2 separate regions of the Homo sapiens genome follow, and region 1 is linked to region 2. The links come from fine-mapping of genetic effects on gene expression. Tissue or cell type: whole blood. Region 2 holds a variant in brackets; the other region holds the start of a gene. All regions are shown on one strand. Distances are between the middles of the regions.

Region 1 (6,808 bases), 69 kb before region 2:
GCCACTTCGCCCAGCCTGGTTTTCCCCTTTTAGATATAATGGTTCAGTAGTGAAGCATAGGTATGCTTTTCTGGTGCCCCCTACCTTCCAATATTTTAGAAGACTGCCTCATGATAAATTTCTAACAGTGGAGTAACTGGTTCATAAGATGTGTGTATAATTACGATATTCTAGCATACTGGAAAACATATTTTCTTTTCGAAAGTATTATATCAATAGAACAATATCATAGCAACCTTATCAGTGTGGGTGGTACTATTAATAATTTTGAGGGTTTAATAGGCATCAAATAAAGCCACTTTAATAGGTCTAAAAAAAATAAGACTTTGTTAAAATGTACATTTCTTTAACTGCTATTAATGTTTTTCTCATATACTTGTGAATGATTTATATTTCTCTGTTTAATGGTCTCTCCTTTTTAAACTATTAAGGGCCTGAGAATTTTCTCTCACATTTGAATGAACACTTTCATGGTATATGTAAATATTTTCCTAGTTTATTGTTCTTTTTAGTTTTTCATAGTTAAAAAAATTTTTAATCTTCATCTGGCTGAATTTATCAATATTTTCTTTGTTCACTGTCCTTTCTTTAGACGTTGATGTATATGACATGTTAACTGATCAATGATAATAGACAATGATTATCGTTATAATAAAAGTCATTTCAGAGGGTCTCATCATACTTGCGAAATATGGTGTTTAGGAAGGGGCGTAATGAAGTGGATACCTCCCTAGAGTGTAATCTATGAGTATGTACTGGCAGAAGGGAAAGAGGAAGAAGAGGGGCAGTTTCCTTCCTCTGTCAAGGCATGACAGCATGTCTCAGAGCACGACGCACACTTACGTAGGCAGAAAATGGCTTTCTAAGTCTTTCAAATGAAATCCCCCTGGCTGGTGGTATTCATCTGCTTTGCCAGTGATGTTCATAAAATGATTCCAAGGCACCGCAGAGCTCTCGAATCTCTCCCAACTATCAAAGGGTTATGCTTGGTTTACGTTTCAATATTAGTTACACTTTGCTCTGAGCTACTTGCAGGCATTTGTAACCCCAGGTTCTGGAACCTGTAAGATGCAGCCACAAATGTTTGCTAGATGAACATTCGAAAAAATTATTTTAACAATTTTCGAATATTTTGGCACTTGTTTGGAAATGTATGGAGTGGAAAGAAGTAGGGTATTTGCATTCTAATCCAGGTCCAGGCACCAAGGGTTTGGCTAATCTTAGATAACTGATTTTTTTTGTGGGCCTCACTTTCCTCATTTGTTAAGAGAGAGCATTAGGCTAGATGATCTCAGAGGGACTTTTCAGTGAGGATTCTATGATTATAGATTGTAAATTAAATAAAATGTCCAGTTAATTGGGTTATCCTACATTTTTAAAACTATGTCCGATCACAAAGAGAGTAGATTATAAAAGAAACCATCAACCTTTTCATAGCTTCAAAGGTATTGGTTTAATTTGGATTTACTGTGAGTTCTCATGAGTTTCAATACAATGCAGTTTACAGTATAATAGAATTCATATTACAAATATAAGTGCATTGAAATCAATGTTGGACAATTAAACAAGAACAAGAACAAAAAGACTTTTTATCCTCTAGAGCTGTGCTTGCTGTTCACTATGGTAGTAAAATGTGGCTAGTCTGAATTAAGATACGCTGTAAGTACTAAATACTCATGAGATTTTGAAGGTTTGTTATGAAAAAAACTATCTCATTAGTGATTTGACATTGATTACATACAGAAATCATTATCACTAAATATATCTTAAAAATTAATTTTTCCTATTTTTGTACTTTTTAAAATGTGGCTACCAAAAATTAAAATTACAGATGTAGGCCACACTGTGTTTCTGTTACACAATGCTCCTTTAGAGGGATAGAAGATTATTTGCATTATTTAAATGAAAATATTTTTGCTTTTTATTCCAGCATACTTAATCTCCAATGATTTTTAAAATGTTAAATTTATTCTCTCATAGGAAAATGGCTTTGTAAAGAAGCTTGAGCCTAAATCTGGCTGGATGACTTTTCTAGAAGTTACAGGAAAGATCTGTGAAATGCTCTTCTGTCCTGAAGCAATACTGTTGACCAGAAAGGACACTCCATATTGTGAAACCGGCCTAATTTTTCTGACTCTTACGAAAACGATTGCCAACACATACTTCTACTTTTAAATAAACAACTTTGATGATGTAACTTGACCTTCCAGAGTTACAGAAATTTTGTCCCTATTTAATGAATAAATTGTATGTATTTTTCTCTATATGCCATTTTTGTCTTCAGTTTTGGAGTCTGGCTGGAAATTCAGCCAAAGGGTAAAAGCTCAACACAGGATCCAGGCAATTAATTATGGGATGATGACCAGGAAGGCGGTGTCTTTTCTGCCCCAGGCAGACTTTTAAGGTGTGCCATTACCCCAAAAGTCCTTTTCTGTGTCACTAGGCTAGACTGCAGACTAGACTGAGAAGCGGACTCAGGCTAGAAGCAGACTCAGGTCGGCTTCCCTCTTCCCTCCTTCCTTCCCATGCTTTCTGCAGTTTCCAGTGCCCCTGGCTGCTTAAGAGTTTCCATTGATGCCTCCTCCCCAGCCTTCTCTCTCTGGCTTGCCATTTGGGGTTGATGGATATGGCAACCTGATATGCAGGATACTCTGGGATATTCTGAACAAAGAAAATTGGTAAATGATTCAACGTGGAGCTAGTGTTAATTTTAATTTTTATTTTTTGGTAAAAATGAACAGATTAGAAAAGTACGTAGTTTGTTAGACCTCGTGTTCTAACTTTTAGGTCAGCAAATCTAATTGCACTATGTATACGCTGTACCTGCCTGGCCTTCCCTTTTTCTTACAACACAGTCCCCCTGGGACTTGCATTAGCTTTCCCTGGAAGCTGTTGATAGATTCCATAAAGAAGCCAGAACTCCCCTCTCAAGCCATGTGCATTCTCACCGGGCACTTAATTAATGCTTTACCTAGGAGGTGTGATTCTTAACGGTGGGGATTAAGACACTGGGGCGGTCAGTAGGGACGTATTTTTGGCAGAGACAGCTCTGGTTTTCTTAGGAAGTCACATCTGAGAGGCAACCGTCTATGCCATCTGAGGCGCCTGTCTACTGGGAGCAGTTTAAGACTTAACAGTTTCTTTTACCTCTTCCTGCAAGTGCCTCACCCACCCCCCAACTGCTTTTAGTTTTAATTCATTTTTGTGTTTTAATCAGAGCTGAGTGGTGGGAATGAACAGTCACTGATGGTTATAACAGGAAGTACCTATGTGGGCACTATTACCTGGAATACATTCACACTAGAAACCCGCAAAATTTGGCTTTTACACTACAGTTATTGCTTTAGCAGTGTTCCCGATTATGTATCATCTATACATTCATCACATAAGGACATTTCCATCAACCACTGTGGTCCCTTAAGATTATAATGGAGCTGAAAAATTCCTAATACCTACTGATGTGGTAGCCAACCAACACATTACCTTTTCTGTGTTTAGATACACAAGTATCACGGTGCTTACAATTGCCTACAGTATTCGGTACAAAATACGCTGTACAGGTGTGTAGCATAGGTGTGTAGTAACTTTGTGTAACTACACTCTGATGTTTGCACAAGAAGGAAATCGGGGCATCTGTCAGACCTATCCCTGTAGTTAAGCGACTCGTGACGATTTCGCTACATGTCCTGCCTTGCCCTTCTTTTCTGGCCCCTGAAGTCCCACTACTGAACAGTACAAGAGATGCCAGGCACCGTGGGTACTGCCGGCCATCTTTACCATCCCCGCCAGTGGCGCTGCCGCCTCCGCGGTCCCGGTGAGGGCCCAGGCTCAGGGAGGTCAGGCGGCAGGGCAGCGACGGCGCCTCGCCACCGCTCCCCTAACCGGGGAGGGCGAGCCGGACCACGGGGACCGCACGAGGGCTGGGTCCCAAGGGCCAGAGGCGAGGTAAGCGCGCGGCGCGCCGCGGGCCCGCGTCCCGGAAGCGGGGTGGGGGCGCTTCCCCGAGCCCCGACCCGCCCCTAGGCCGCGGATCCACCTGGGAGCGGCCAGGGGCGGAGACCGAACCCGAGGGCGCCCAGGGCGCCGAGGGCGGGACTGGACTCGGCTTGGGCGTGAGATGGCGGCGGCAGCGGTGAGCAGCGCCAAGCGGAGCCTGCGGGGAGAGCTGAAGCAGCGTCTGCGGGCGATGAGTGCCGAGGAGCGGCTACGCCAGTCCCGCGTACTGAGCCAGAAGGTGCGAGGCCGCCCGTAGCGGAAGCCGCGGCGGACAGACCCTCCGAAGGCCTGGCGGCCAGCGATTGCTGATCTGTGCATGGTCCGTGCTGGCGCTGGGCTAGGCGCCCCCCCACCCCCCGGCGCGCGCACGTTTCCCCTCCCGGCGCGCGCACGCCCCCTAGTCGTGGTCTGGACGCTCTTGGCACTATGGCGGGGAGAGGGCCCGGTAGTGAAAGTTGTGGGGCTAAAGAGCGAGAGGACGGCAGGGGTTGACAGATTTATCTCTGGGAGGGGAGTTTGTTTGCATGGGTGGCTCTTTTGGTGCTCGAAAACCCTCCGTGGGGATGACGGTGCTGTGGTGAGAGCACGGTGAGAACAGAAAGTTGTGGTAGAGGAGATGGGTGAACACCTGAGTGCCCAGGTTCCCTCAGTGAGGCCTAAAGTTAATGAGCTACGAGTAAGACTCCGGTTATATTAGTAAAATGGCCAGAGAAAGATGCAGGTGCTTTAGACGAGGGAACACCAAAAAAGGTGTGGAGATGCCAAAGGGCAGAACTCAGAGGTTGACTGGACTTCACTAAGCATATGGAGGGCTAAGGCTGTGTCTCAGTAGCTCCAGGGCCTAGGCTTTTCCTGTCTCAGAGTTGGTCAACATTAAATGCTTTTTCTTGAGTGAACGAAAGGAAGACTTGGCTATCATATCCAGGCTTCCCAAGAACGTAGGAAACAGAAGAGAGAAATGAGAGGAATAAGTGAGGGTCCGTGTTTGTTGGTTAGCAGACCTCTGTTTCATTACTTTCACCAACTGCACTGCTATGTATTTTTAGTCTATGTAATGTCAGTTTTCTTATCAATAAAATGGCAGTCATATCCTGTTGTGAAGGCATGTTCTAAAGAGTTTTTGGGGACTCATTTTTGTTAGACACCAGAGGAAGAAAAATTTAATGTCCCCTGAATAAGTACGTATTTGTAATTCTGTTGTAAGTCAAACTGATGATCTGTCTTCCCAGCATCATGCTTCAGAGACACCAGATATTTGGAAACTTGATGTTCCTTGGAATTAGTTATACCATCAGGCTTTCTTAATTACCCTTCACTATTCTATTATCCGTTATTTACTCAAATTCAAGGTGCCTATGGGTTAAAGCAGTAAAGCATATATGCTCATTTCACCCCTCTCTTCATCTATGTAGGTGTGTATGAGGGAATCTATACAGATGTTAATTCGTTCGTTCAAACAGAATTATTTTAGCTATTATGAGGAAGCATTGCTGGGTGTTTTAGTAGATGTAAAGGATATAGACTCTTGTCCTTACTATCTAGTTGTTTAAAATTTAGCTAATTCATTCACATATGTTGAACACCTATGTAGTGCACACTTGGCTATATACTGGGTTGTGGAGATGAAAAAGATATGATTGTTGCTCTAAAGGAGCAGAGAGCCTAGAAGAGGAAACAGACATGAATAAAGAATTGCATTGAAGCCAGATATATGATAAAGGTAAACACCAATGTTGTGGAAACATAGCCTTGGGGAGGGGAAATTGGAAAGCTTTCTATTGGAAAATGTTTGAGATGAATTTCGGAGAACAAGATGAATTCTTTCAGGTGAAGGGAAAGATGGGATAGGGGAGTGTGAGTAGGGATATTTAGGCAAGAGATGACAGGATACAGTTTAGCATGGGCTTTGGAACTGCACAGATCTGGGCTGAATCTGGCGCCATTGTTTTTTAACTGTATATCCTTGGACAGGTCTCATAATCTCTCAGAACCTTTGGTTCCTTGTCTATAAAATGGATAATATCACTCTTGTAGGTCGATTGTGAGAGTTAAAGAAGTGTGTAAAGGGATGTATTCAGAGCTTTACCTATTGTTTGTTATGTCCTTTAGGAAGAGTATAATGGCAGCATTTGGATAATGGGTTGAGGAAGGAAGAAAGAAAAAAAATATGGAGACCAGTAAGGGGCTGTTGTGCCAATTCAAGTGAAAGATGAAAAATATGCAAACCAGAGCATGGGCAGTGAAGATGAGGGGAAAGGAGGCAAATGGGAGACTGTTAAGTGAGAAACAGCAGGACTTGGCAACTGATTGGAAGAGGTTAGAGAATACTGGAAGGGGAGGAGAGTCACCAGTGATTCCAAAATTTAGAGCTTGGTATAATGGTGTTTAGCCTTAGGCATAAAGAAGGTAGGAATTGGAACAAATTTTGGAGGGGCATGGGGAAAATAAAGATGAATTCAGTTTCTAATCTTCTACGTTGTCTTTCTCCGTAGAAGATTAGAATTCATAAACTATAGATGGAAATAGTTTACATAGATACAGAGTCACTGACAGCAATAGAATGACGACTGAGAGCTGGCATTAAAGGAGGAGAGAGAAAAATTAAAAAGCAGACCCATGACCCTCAGTAATAAATACATTTTACTCTGTACAAACAAATATACACATACAAGGAACATTTTACAGCTCTTAAGCACATACAATGAAATTTAATATTTTCTTTTTTTTTCAAGACAGAGTCTTGCTCTGTCGCCCAGGCTGGAGTGCGGTGGCATGATCTCGGCTCACTGCAACCTCTGCCTCCCACGTTCAA
Region 2 (11,345 bases):
CATTCTGGCTCTCTGTTGGTAAATCCTGCGTGGATGTGCATGTTGGACACCCCTTGTCCTGTACCTACATCCTTTCAGACCACTTTTTTCCCTCCAGCCATTGGGTACAGCAGACTGGCTGCATACAGGTGAAGCCAGACAGCAGTTCTCCTCACCTGCATGATTTTCAGCCCTGGAATGTCACATCTGAGTGAGACCCTTGCAAGGACCTTCTCAGTCATTCTGGTGCATGTACAAACCTGGAAGTGTGTTGTAGTTAACACCTCAAGGGGTAATGAATGCTTGGCCAGTGTGGATTAGAAGCCAGTGGATAAATTATCTTGTCTTCCAACCCTTTGGCAGACAATTCCGAGGTGTATTCTCCATCATTCCTGAGAGGATTGTTAGGCTAGTAGCAGCAAACTTCTGTGCCCATGGTGGGAACCAGGTGGATAATTCACCCTCAAATTGGCCTTCCTTCTGTTTCCGTCTTCCCAGTCCCCACTCCTGTTTTTTGGGGATCATTTCCCAAAATATACTTTCTGCATGCAATTCCTTGTCCCAGGCACTGCTTTTTTGGGGACCCAGTCTAAAACAACATGTTCATTACCTCTCTTTAGAATATGGTGATACTTGTCATTTATTGTCCTTGCTTTGTGGAAAATTCTAGACCAAAGGAGAAGTCCCATCTAACATCCTTCTGTACATCATTACTGGAAATGAAGAGCTGACAGTCATAGACTGATTGCCAAGCAGAACCCCACACTGCTTAACAGCTCGCACAGCATTCCTGTTGATGTGAGTTCTTGTTCTTGTTCTGGTTTTTGAATGGGGGGTAATTTGAGGTGGACAGATAAACCTTGATTTAGATGTTGAAGAGGGTCTCTAAGAGCAGGAGGTAAATTGGAGTCTATAGTCTAAGATTGCTTTGTATATCAGTTATGGTTCTTTGCTTCAAGCAAAGACTAAAGTAAGAAAAAAGCGAGCTATTGGAAGGAGGACTAGATGCTGTGGCATGCCTCCCAATTCCTCATTAGGACTGAGGTATGCTCTCCTCCAGCTCCCAGGATGTTGGCGGCAGGTAGCTCTGAGCTGAGGCCTCCCCTGCAATTGTCCTTGGCTAAGGAGGGCCACCTTGCCCAAGGTTACAGCCCCTTCTTGATGGCAGCCTATACCCAATACCTGGTCATTTTGGAGGTGCAAAGCCTTCGTTGCTTCAAGGCAGGACACCTCTGAAGGGCCATCCTAGCTCCAGCTCCCCAGGAATTGGCTGAGGCCTATGTGCAGTGCACAGTTTCATTTCAGGTCCTAGTCTCTGCTCAATCCTGCTTCCTTTCCTCCCTCACAGGTGTTGTTGCTGAGAGCACTTTCCAGTAATCTTTCTGCACACAAATCACCAGCTCAATCTGTTTCCTGGGGAACTTGAACTACAACAGAATGATACTGGGGAGTTTGCAAAATCAAACTAAACATAGGCAGCAGGAAGGACACAAAGCAGGGGAGCCCCAGAAATCTTAGTGGTAGAAACTTTTAAACCTCTTAGGGTACCACCAGGGTATCTCTGCTCAATATTTAAATCCCTGGAAGGGAGCCTCTGATTGGCCTTGTTTGGGTTGGGAATCAGGGCCCTGTGATTAGAACTACCTGGGGTAGTGGAGAGGAAAGAGAAGCAACCTGTGTCTTCCAGACCATGGTATCTGAAGTTTTCTTGGAGGAAGTCAAATAAATATGTGGGTTGAGGATGGGAGCTCTAAGCAGAGGATGTGGTGGCTCATTTAAGATCACACATTGACAAAGAGCAGAGTGGTGTCAAGATTCTGGGACAGAGGCAAGTTAGAAATAAAACTCTTGTTTTTCCCAAGGTCCATCATACAACTGAAATGGAAGACTATGGCTTGCTGACCAATTCTTGCTCATTTGGGGTTACTTTATATAGGGGGATAAGTGTCCCTTCAGGTGGACTGAGAGTCACCAGAAGATTTAGTGGAAGGACCCTGCCTCTGGGGATGCATATGTAGCTGGTACTAATGAGTACTTTCTATGTATCAGAAAGCCACCAAATATCACTCTTCCTCCCCTGAGTTCAGAACCACCTGACAGACACAGGGGTCATATGGGGCTAGGTCGAAAGATCAGCTTGATTAATAATGGATTGGTGGATGTAGCCTGGGTATACAGCTTCCTAGTACTAGACTCCTACATCAGAGACATCCATTCTCCAACCATTCACGAGAAGAACTGGCCAGACACCGTAGGCTTTCTCATTAGGGCAGGAGCTCAGCACATGGCATGTCCACACTGAAAGAATGAGAGGAAAAAATGAATGGAAAATACAGGTGGTATTGAAGAAAGAGCACTCTTCCTGTGGGGGGTCAGATCCAAAATAAAGAAACCAGATGGGGCTGAATCTAACATGCTCTGCTCCTTCTGTGTAACTCACCACCCAGAGTGAGGAGGAGTGAGGGGAGGAGGAGTGAAAGGACAGGTGTGTCGCTCTGGCCAAAGTCCTTCCATGTGCTCACATGGAGCTGGGGAAGAGGAAGTGTGGAACAACTACTTTCCATATATTTACATATATTAGCATATCTAGTTTCACAACACTATGAAGTATCACTGTCCTGATTTTATAGAAGATGAAACTGAGGCCAAGGCCATCTTCCAAGGATGTGCTGGCTTGGGATTTGAACCAAGGAACTAAGTGTCCTCTGATCTGAAAGCCCATGTTCTTTTCAGTGCCCTTTACCTGCTCCTCATTTGGAGTGCAGGGGAAGGGGAGGACTCCTGGCTCTCTTCTCCAGCCCTCACAGGGGTCCTGAAGCTTCCAGCTCACGTTGGGCCTGGTTGCTTGAGTTACCTCATGTACCTGAGTCTACAAAGGCTTCTATGGGAATGTGACAGATTTGAAGGGGCAGTCACTGGGCCCGTACCAGGAAGGCTGGGAATAGGGCTCCTTTCCTGTGGTGCTTAGCGTTGGTCTCCCCTGCAGGACCTATACCCGCTTGCTAGACCAGGCCGTCCTCACATGGCCAAAGAGGCTGCCACAAAGGCCTCACCTTGCCTCCCACCAGGACACCCTGGGCCAGGGCAAGAGCAGCTGCTTTAGCTCAGCCCTTCAGGTCAGGTCTGCAGTAATCAGCTCCTTCCAAGGAAGGCTGGGCCCAATGGGGTCTCTGTTAGCTTAGGCATGCCCTTTAGGCTTAATTCTCTCTGGTTATGAAGCCCCAAGACTCAACCCATCCCCAGCTGGCTAGTCTATTCTGTTGGACTCTGACATTTTCCCCAAACCTGGCTTTTCTCTTGGTTTCCTTACAAGCCTTTGTGTCTTCACCAAGTTGTTACATTTCTTGCTTTTTCAGTCTCTGCAGATGTTCCAACCACTACACATCCCCCTTCTCCCCCTCCATACCCATCTTCCTCTTCCTGTCTCCCTTTATCCTTCTGTCTCTTCTTCCTCCTCTCTTCTTATTGCTCATCCCTGACCTCCGCCTCGACCTTCCCCTCTTTTCCTCTCTAATCCTTCCCCTTGAACCCCAGGGATATAGGCCTGTCTGCAGAGGAAAGATCTTTGTCATGTGATTACTAAACCCCCAACATGTTATTTGGTAGAAGGCAGCACAATAGGAGTTTTCTTCTAGGGGCAAAGGGGCTATAAAAGATTTCCAAATATCATAGAAAATCACCTGAGGATGCTGAGCTCAGGGCAGCTGCAGCAGGGGTGAAGGTGGGTCACAGCCCCCAACCGCCATGGAGATGAAAGGTAACAAAAGGAGAGGGGAGAGTTCCATACCTCATTTTATTCTCTTGACAGTTTTGCGCAGAATTACCCCTGTCTGTATTATTATCACTTGTAAAAAAGCATTTTTTTCATACCATTTAATCTATCAGCCTTTTATTAAAGCCTAGATAAAAGTAGGAAAAAAAAATCTCATCAACATCAGCCACCAGAAGGGAAATTTCAGAGACTGAGATGATCAGATTTCCAAGTTTACTGAAAAACCTATAGATAACTGCATGGCTGCTCATGCTATTTTATAAAATAAGTGCAGCCAGGTGAGCCATTTAATAACGTGGGAATTGTCGGCTGTGCGGATAGTGGACAGAGCATGAGCTCACCTCGTAAAGGCGTAGGCTCTCGCGGAAATGAACACTGCGGCACACTGCGGGCCGGCAGCACAGCGTCACTCTGTAGACTGAGCCTCCCAGCTTCTCGGGAGCCGTCCACGGTGCAGCCAGCCACTATGGGACACAGTGCCTAGGTCTTTCCAAGAACAGTAGAGCCCACACTTATCCCCTCCCATGTCAGCCACACTCTGGAGCTCACATTTGGAGTAGTGAAAGGCTTTCAAAGGTATTTAATCTCACCACAATCATGAGATAGGTATGAAAACCCTCTTTTCCAAATGAAGAAATTGACCTCCACAGGAGGGAAGGAACTTTGGTGAATCCACAGAGTGGAGTGGCGGTGCTAGGGTGATTACCTAGGGGTCCAGTTCCAGTTCCTGTTCTCCTTTTGCTCCATTGGGCTTATCCCATCACCAAAAACAGTCTAGAGCCGGAGATGTTAAAGAAGCCACCCTTTGACCTGCAGGGTAAGTGTGTGAGAATTGGTGGGTGGGTGGGGATAGGGGAGTCAGGTTTGGGCAGTAGAACGGAGGAGTAATGTATACTCTAAATAGGTTCATTTCCTGACTCCCCCACTTATCTGTGTGACCCTGTATATGTCACTTAACTTCTCTGTGCCTCTATAAAATGAGGAATGATAATAATATCTACCTCATAGGTTTGTGGTAAAGGTTAAAAGAGATAATGGATCAAGCATTTAATACAGTATAGTAAGTTGGATAAATGGTATAGAGTTGGGCCCACTTTTGGAATCAAAAGGAATTTGTAAAAGTGCCTCACACATGCCTGTCCTGTAGAGGTGAGCAAGTATTTTCAATCCCTTCCTGATATCTTTCCTGTGGCTAAGAATCCTTACAGGCACTTGGGACCCCTGCCTTCCTTGCTGTGGACTAGGATGCCTGTAGGTACCAGGTTAGAAGAGTTGCTTCTTGGAATTGCCATGTGACTGTACAATGTGCTATCTGTGGCCCTGCCATTGATTCACAGTATAACCTTGAGCTGACCTCAGTCTTACCTGGATGGGCCTCTGTTTCCTTAGTTATAAAGGGATAAGGACAGAGCTACGTTTGAGGAAGTGTAGTTTGTGAACTTCTACATCAGAATCAACTCCATTGTTGATGGCTGAAAATGTTGATTCATGGGCCTTGCCCCAAGTTGGCTCAATCACAATCTCTAATGGTGCTCTAGAATGTATATTTGTAAAAAGCCCTCTCCACTTGCCCCATGCCCTGGCCTAACTCTCAGAGATTCTGATATAATTGACCATTAATACATAATGAAAGTAAATAATGGATTAATAAATTAAAAATTGATTTACTTTTTAACTTTGGTTGTTTTTAAGATTTTCCCATTTGTTTTTGTTTTTTAGCAGTTTTACTACAT[G/A]TGCCTAAATGTGGTTTTCTTTGAACTCCTCTAGGGTTCATAACACTTCTAGAATCTGTGATTTGATACCTTTTGTCAGTGTTGGAAAATTCTCAGTCATCATGTCTGTAAAAATTGTTTCTGACCCATTTGTTGTTTTCCTCTCCAGGACTCCAAGTACATGTATGTTGGACCTGCTTGCCATGTCCCATTATGTCCCATACATGCCCCTCTACTACCACCTGTATTTTCCATTCATTTTTTCCTCTCATTCTTTCAGTGTGGATATTTTCTATTGACCTATCTCTGAATTCACTAATCTTTTTATCAGCTGTGTCTAGTTTGCTATTAAACCCATCTATTTAGTTCTTAGTTTTAATTATTGTATTTTTCAGTTCTAGAATTTTCATTTGATTTTTTAAAATAGATTTTAACTCTTTGCTAAAATTAATTTCTTGGACATATTAATCAGTTATTTTGAAAGTCTTTGTGTGATCATTCCAACATCAGAGTCTCCTTAGAGCTTTTTCTTTCTATGTCTATTTTTTCTCTTGGTTTCTGGCCTTGCACATCTCCCAATATGCTTCATAATTCATTTATTTAAAAAAAGTTTGTTTTTTTTTTTTGAGATGGAGTCTCACTCTGTTGCCCAGGCTGGAGTGCAGTGGCGTGATCTCTTGGCTCACTGCAACCTCCACCTCCTGCATTCAAGCGATTTTCCTGCCTCAGCCTCCCAAGTATCTGGGCCTACAGGCACATGCCACCACTCCTGGCTAATTTTTTTTTTTTTTGTATTTTTAGTAGAGACGGGGTTTCACCACGTTATCCAGGATGGTCTTGATCTCCTGGCCTCGTGATCTGCCCGCCTCGCCTCCCAAACTGCTGGTATTACAGACATGAGCGCCACCACACCTGGTCTTGTTTTTGTAACTTTTTATTGAATGTCAGGCATTGTGTATGAAAAACTGAAGAGAGAATTTGAGCCTCTGGATGATGCTATTTTCCCCTTAGAGCATTTACTTCTTTCTGCTTTTGGAAGTCAAGATAGGGGCAGATTGTTATAATCCAGTCTGGGATTGAGCAGATTTGAAGCCAGTCTTTAGTTTTTGTGAATACTGGCTTATTTGGGTTAGTCCTTATTCCCAGGCTTCAGGAGTTCCTTCTGAAAGCTTGGGTTGCATACCAGGGCCGCTCCTTTTTGGTGATGGCTGCACTATTTTTGTTTCCCCAGGATGGTGGGGCAGCAAAGCTCTGCTTAGCTTTGTAGACTCCTGGCTGCCAGTTTCTACTTCATTTCTCCTCTTGGCTTCTTCACTGATCAGTTTCTACAAAGCACAACTTCTCAGCTTTTAAGTTTTTCTTAAGAATCAACAAATGCTTTGAGGCAAAAAGCTGTGCCAAATATCAGGTTCAGTTCTGTGCTTTCTTTCTCTCTGAGATCTTGGTGCCGTAAGACCTCACCACATTTGATAGCTCTCTGATGCGTTCAAACAGGGCATTTCTATTTGTTCTTGGTAGTAGAGTTGATCTGAATATATTAGCCTATCAAAGGCAGAAATGGAACTCCCTGATAGTGGTTTTTAATCTCTTTGGGTGATTTGAATGTAAGATGCACTGGACAAAATCAACTCCTTGCCACATCATAAGAACCACCTTAGTCTGTTGTTTAAAAATGTTGATTTTTCTGGTCCTATCCTAGATGTACTGAACCAGAATTTCCAGAAAAAAAAGACTGATTTGTTGTGCTAGCAAGTGCTTCTGACAAAGGCACACTTGAGAAGCACTGAATAAGTGGCTCTTTAGAGTCCTTCTTGCTCTGGTTGCATATTCTGGTGACCCTAGTGACCCCACCCACCCAATGAACCCTGTATATATAGTGGCAGGAAGGAGCCTGGTTATTCTGATATGCAGAGGGGCAGCATGCTGCCTTTACCACCACCTTCGACTTTAGTTTGCATTCTGTAACTCTCTCCAAAGAGAGAGTGGTAGCTCTCTTTGCTGAATTATTTCTAATTTTTTCCATGGACATTTTAATCAGAGATGACAAATGACTGGTCTTTTGCTAGCAGTTCAATCTAAGAGGAAGTTATTTGCCTCTTAGAGGTACATTAATTTGCGATGGCTTTCATGCAGAAGGCAGAGGGATATTGTGGAAAGGGACTTGGATTCTGGGAATCAGGTATAAGCCCAGGGTACTTGGCTTGGGAATTGTAGTAGTCACTTGCCCCTTCCCTTCCTCCCTCCACTAATGTAAGTTTCCTTTGCCTGCTTGAGGGTATCTCCAAATTAGGTTCTTTTCCAGCTGCCAGTGGTAGGACTAGAGTGCAGTTCTGACCCTGGTCTCTGGAACCCTTTCTCACCCCTGCTGGCTCCTCTCCAGTGGATTCCCCACTGTCCTGCACCAACTCCCTCCCCTTCGTCTCTCACCCACCTCCTTTTCTCCTTTTCTTCTCTTGTCCTTCCCTTCTCTTCTCCTCACCTCCACCCCAATCTTCTTTCCCCCGTTCCAGAATCAGAACAGAGGCAGTAGTGTCCTGTTGTGGACCCTCCCTCAACTGCTTCAGCCTTCTCCAGGACCAGCTGTCAGCAGAAGTGGAGCTCATGCAGGAGGGCAAAATGGTCCAATTCCTTTTCTCAGGGCTATCTAGCAAGACCAGTTCCTGTGGTTCTCTCTGGCTCATGTGAGGATGCTTCCCACTTTGGAGGTCTATGGTTGTCCTAGTCCGTGGCTACCCAGTAAGTGCTACTCAAATCAGTAGGAAAACAATGAAGTGTGCCCAGTGGTAAAGGGGCAAAGGACATAAACAGGTAATTCACACAAGAGGAGACACAGATAGCCACAAATATAAGAACTATTTAATTTCACATTTCATCAAAGAAATGCAAGCTGAAACCATGTGAGTAGTAAAAAATAATCAAACCAGTTAAGTTTGGGCTATGATGCAGGGAAATGGACACTCATACTGCTGGGAGAGTGTATGTTTTTTAGTCTTTCTGGAGAGAAAGTTGGCAGAATATAACAAAAATCTTATAATTTTCTATGACTTTTGACCCTGTCATTCTACTTTCAGGAATTCATCCCAGTGAAATAATGTATGCGATTTGCAAAAGTTCTATACAAGTATATTCAGCATGAGGCTGTTTTATTGTAATAGTGATGACTGCTGCTACCCAGTGAAATACAACCATACAATAATAAGGGGTTGCTACATTCATGCCAGTTGTACACTCTGTTGTCATTAAAAACATCATACACAAATATTTAAAGAGGAAGAATGTCCAAGCTCTTTTTTAAAAAAATAAAATAAAAGCAGTGTATCACAATAATTGTATTTTGGTGGGGAGGAACCAGCATAGAAAAAAGATCAATGGATGCAAAATGTTACCATGTCTGTCTTGTGTGTTTTATCATACACAAAAATCTAAGTAATATGATTATTAAAAAAGAGAAGAAGAAAACAAAAATACTGATTCCTAGCATGTAGGAAGACTGGCCTGCATTCTAGTCCTGAATTTGCCTCTTGTTCTCTGTGAGGCTTTGGACGGGTCACCTTGGCTCTTTTGATGGGCAGTTTCCTCATCTATAAAGCAGATCTGGCCACGCGTAGCAGCATTCATGTCTGTTCAGTGCTTTACCAGTCCCTTTGCTAACCATTGTTTTACTTTGATCTCACATCTGTGCCTTGTAGATCAGCACTTTGTGGGCTGTTGGCTATTTTACTATCACTTGATAATTCGGTATCTCCAAATTAGGTTCTTTTTCCAGCTACCAGTGGTAGGACTAGAGTGCAGTTCTGACCCTCGTCTCTGGAACCCTTTCTCACCCCTGCTGGCTCCTCTCCAATGGAGAAACTAACCTTATTTTCATGTACTGTGATACAAAGAAAAGCTTCTTAAGGGTTATTGGAAGGCAAGCATTTGAAGGAACTAGAGTAGCCTGGCTAATGACCTGGTGCAGTGGCTGAGTTACAGCTGGTCTGGAGGGCAGATGATCCACAAGGTTGGGTCTGGGGTCAGTTAGTAGTTGAGGATGGGGAGGTTGGGAGCAGGTCAAGGCGGGACCGGAACAGGCCTAGGAGAAGTGTTGAAAAAGCCAGAAAACAGTGATTGAGAGAACTGCTCCAGGTTGAGGGGATGCTCTAGGAGTGGTAGCTTTGCTGGAGGTTCAGCTCAGGGTCCTGGAGGTCAGATACCAGGACTTGGAGGCCTCAAGAAAAGAGTGGGGAGCCAGCCCAGCAGGGCTTAGCTGGGCAAAGGAGAGACGTTTTTAAGGTTGTGAGCAGGCATGACAGGCACTACTGGAGAGCCCAGAAACAAGGATTAGGCACGTGCAGGCTTACGTGCAAATTGCAAGTCTGCATTTCTGTAAAACCGACAACAATGGAAAATGTGTAATAGATGGACCAATCTAAAGATAGTCTGGAAAAATGACCTCACTTAAGGAAAAATCGAGCAGTTAACTTCCTGCTCACTAGCAGGTCGAAGCCTAATCTTTAAAACTGATGTCCTTATCTCAGAGCTCCCTAGGTGATAATATTAGCCCTCACTGACATGGTCTATCTTCTCCGTAAATACCTTTCCCTCTAACAACAACAATAAAAATGTAGCTTTCTAGCCCACGGGGCTGTTTTTTGTTTCCTAATATGCCCTGAACTGAACTCCTTGGTTTATGGAAGAAGCTCAATGTGAAACTGCAGATCGACTCTTTTATCACAATCCTTTTAATTACTCCACGTACCCAATTTTGTTATCCAATTATGGGTAAGATTAAAGTTCATCAAACTACATGTTTTATGTGAAGTTCCTTCATTTCCAAAAGATCAGTGGAACATTAAAGAACAAATGAAACAGTCAGTTGCAGATTATACAGGTTGATTTATCATTGATCTTCCATAAACAGCAAAAACTAGTTCTGATATTTTCCCCAGCATAATAGGCCTATGTATACAGTACACTGTATATCTTTTCATTTCAGCCTTGAAAAAAATATGATATATCCCTAGTGGGAGTCATAATTTCGCTGAATGTATAGTGCTTAAGGCTCCACAGCGCCCAGCCAGTTTGTTACAGCAGATGGATGAGAGCCCACTGTTTCATGAAATTGCTTTTGAATATTTGCAGGATGACCTTTTCCCACACTATCCCACCAAAATGCATTAACTCCTTCTGCACAAGATGGAAAAATGCTATGCCGAACCACGCTCCTGCAAGGTGAAACGTGACAGCCTTTAATATAAAACCTTTCCTGACATGTTCCCTGCTGTCAGAAACAATCTCTGTTTCCCAGAAGTTCCCTTTCAGAGAGAGGAAAGTGGAAGGAGCAGACAACTCCTGGGTGACATTTACCAAGGTCACGCAGCTGGTGTTGGGTGGTGCCAGGATTATAATTCAGGTCTGGCTATCTCCAAAGTGTTTGCTTCTTCCATGCCCCTGGAACACATTGTTTATGCCTGTATTGTAGCCTTTATCCTCTTGTTCCATTTTATTTGAGCAATTTGAGCCAATTTTCCTTCCATCATAACGTGGGCTTATGGTTTTATGCCTGTTCCTCTTTGCCACCACTTCAAGTGTACCTTGCATTTAGTAGCTACTTGGTGTATCAATCAGGGTTCAATCAGAGAAGCAGAACCACTGGGAGGTCCTGCGTGTATTAATATATATTAGGTTTTGTTATAGGATTTGTTAGAGGAATTTGGCTTTTGCATCTTGTGCTAGAGCTTGAAGTCCACATACCAGGTTGTTGGGTAGAGAAGATGGATGTGAAGCAGAGGAGAGCGAGAGCATGCTGGAACCCCCAAGCACAAGTTGGAGACCATGGGATGGACTGGGCCCCGGGTTGCTTCTTTTGCCTCTGACCTTGATGGTATAGGTGTTCTACAAAA

Evidence for each region. PIP is the estimated chance that this variant, and not a neighbour inherited with it, causes the effect.
Region 1: MTHFS starts here. The variant in region 2 is fine-mapped to the expression of MTHFS in whole blood (INTERVAL, PIP 0.97).

The regions. Positions count from the first base shown.
Region 1 is chr15:79,894,298-79,901,105 of GRCh38, reverse strand. MTHFS (methenyltetrahydrofolate synthetase) reads left to right here and starts at 4,092. Exons shown (of 3, transcript NM_006441.4): 1 at 4,092-4,234. The coding sequence starts at 4,118. All of the region lies in intron 2 of ST20-MTHFS (ST20-MTHFS readthrough), which reads left to right. It overlaps ST20 (suppressor of tumorigenicity 20), which reads left to right. Exons shown (of 3, transcript NR_037653.2): 3 at 1,981-2,264. RefSeq lists an enhancer at 3,594-3,643 and a silencer at 3,784-4,083.
Region 2 is chr15:79,822,958-79,834,302 of GRCh38, reverse strand. It overlaps LOC124903536 (a long non-coding RNA gene), which reads left to right. Exons shown (of 2, transcript XR_007064730.1): 1 at 1-777; 2 at 1,328-10,251. Among named protein-coding and RNA genes, the nearest start is that of MTHFS, 68 kb to the left of the region's middle. The variant G/A (reference allele first, on the strand shown) is at 5,485.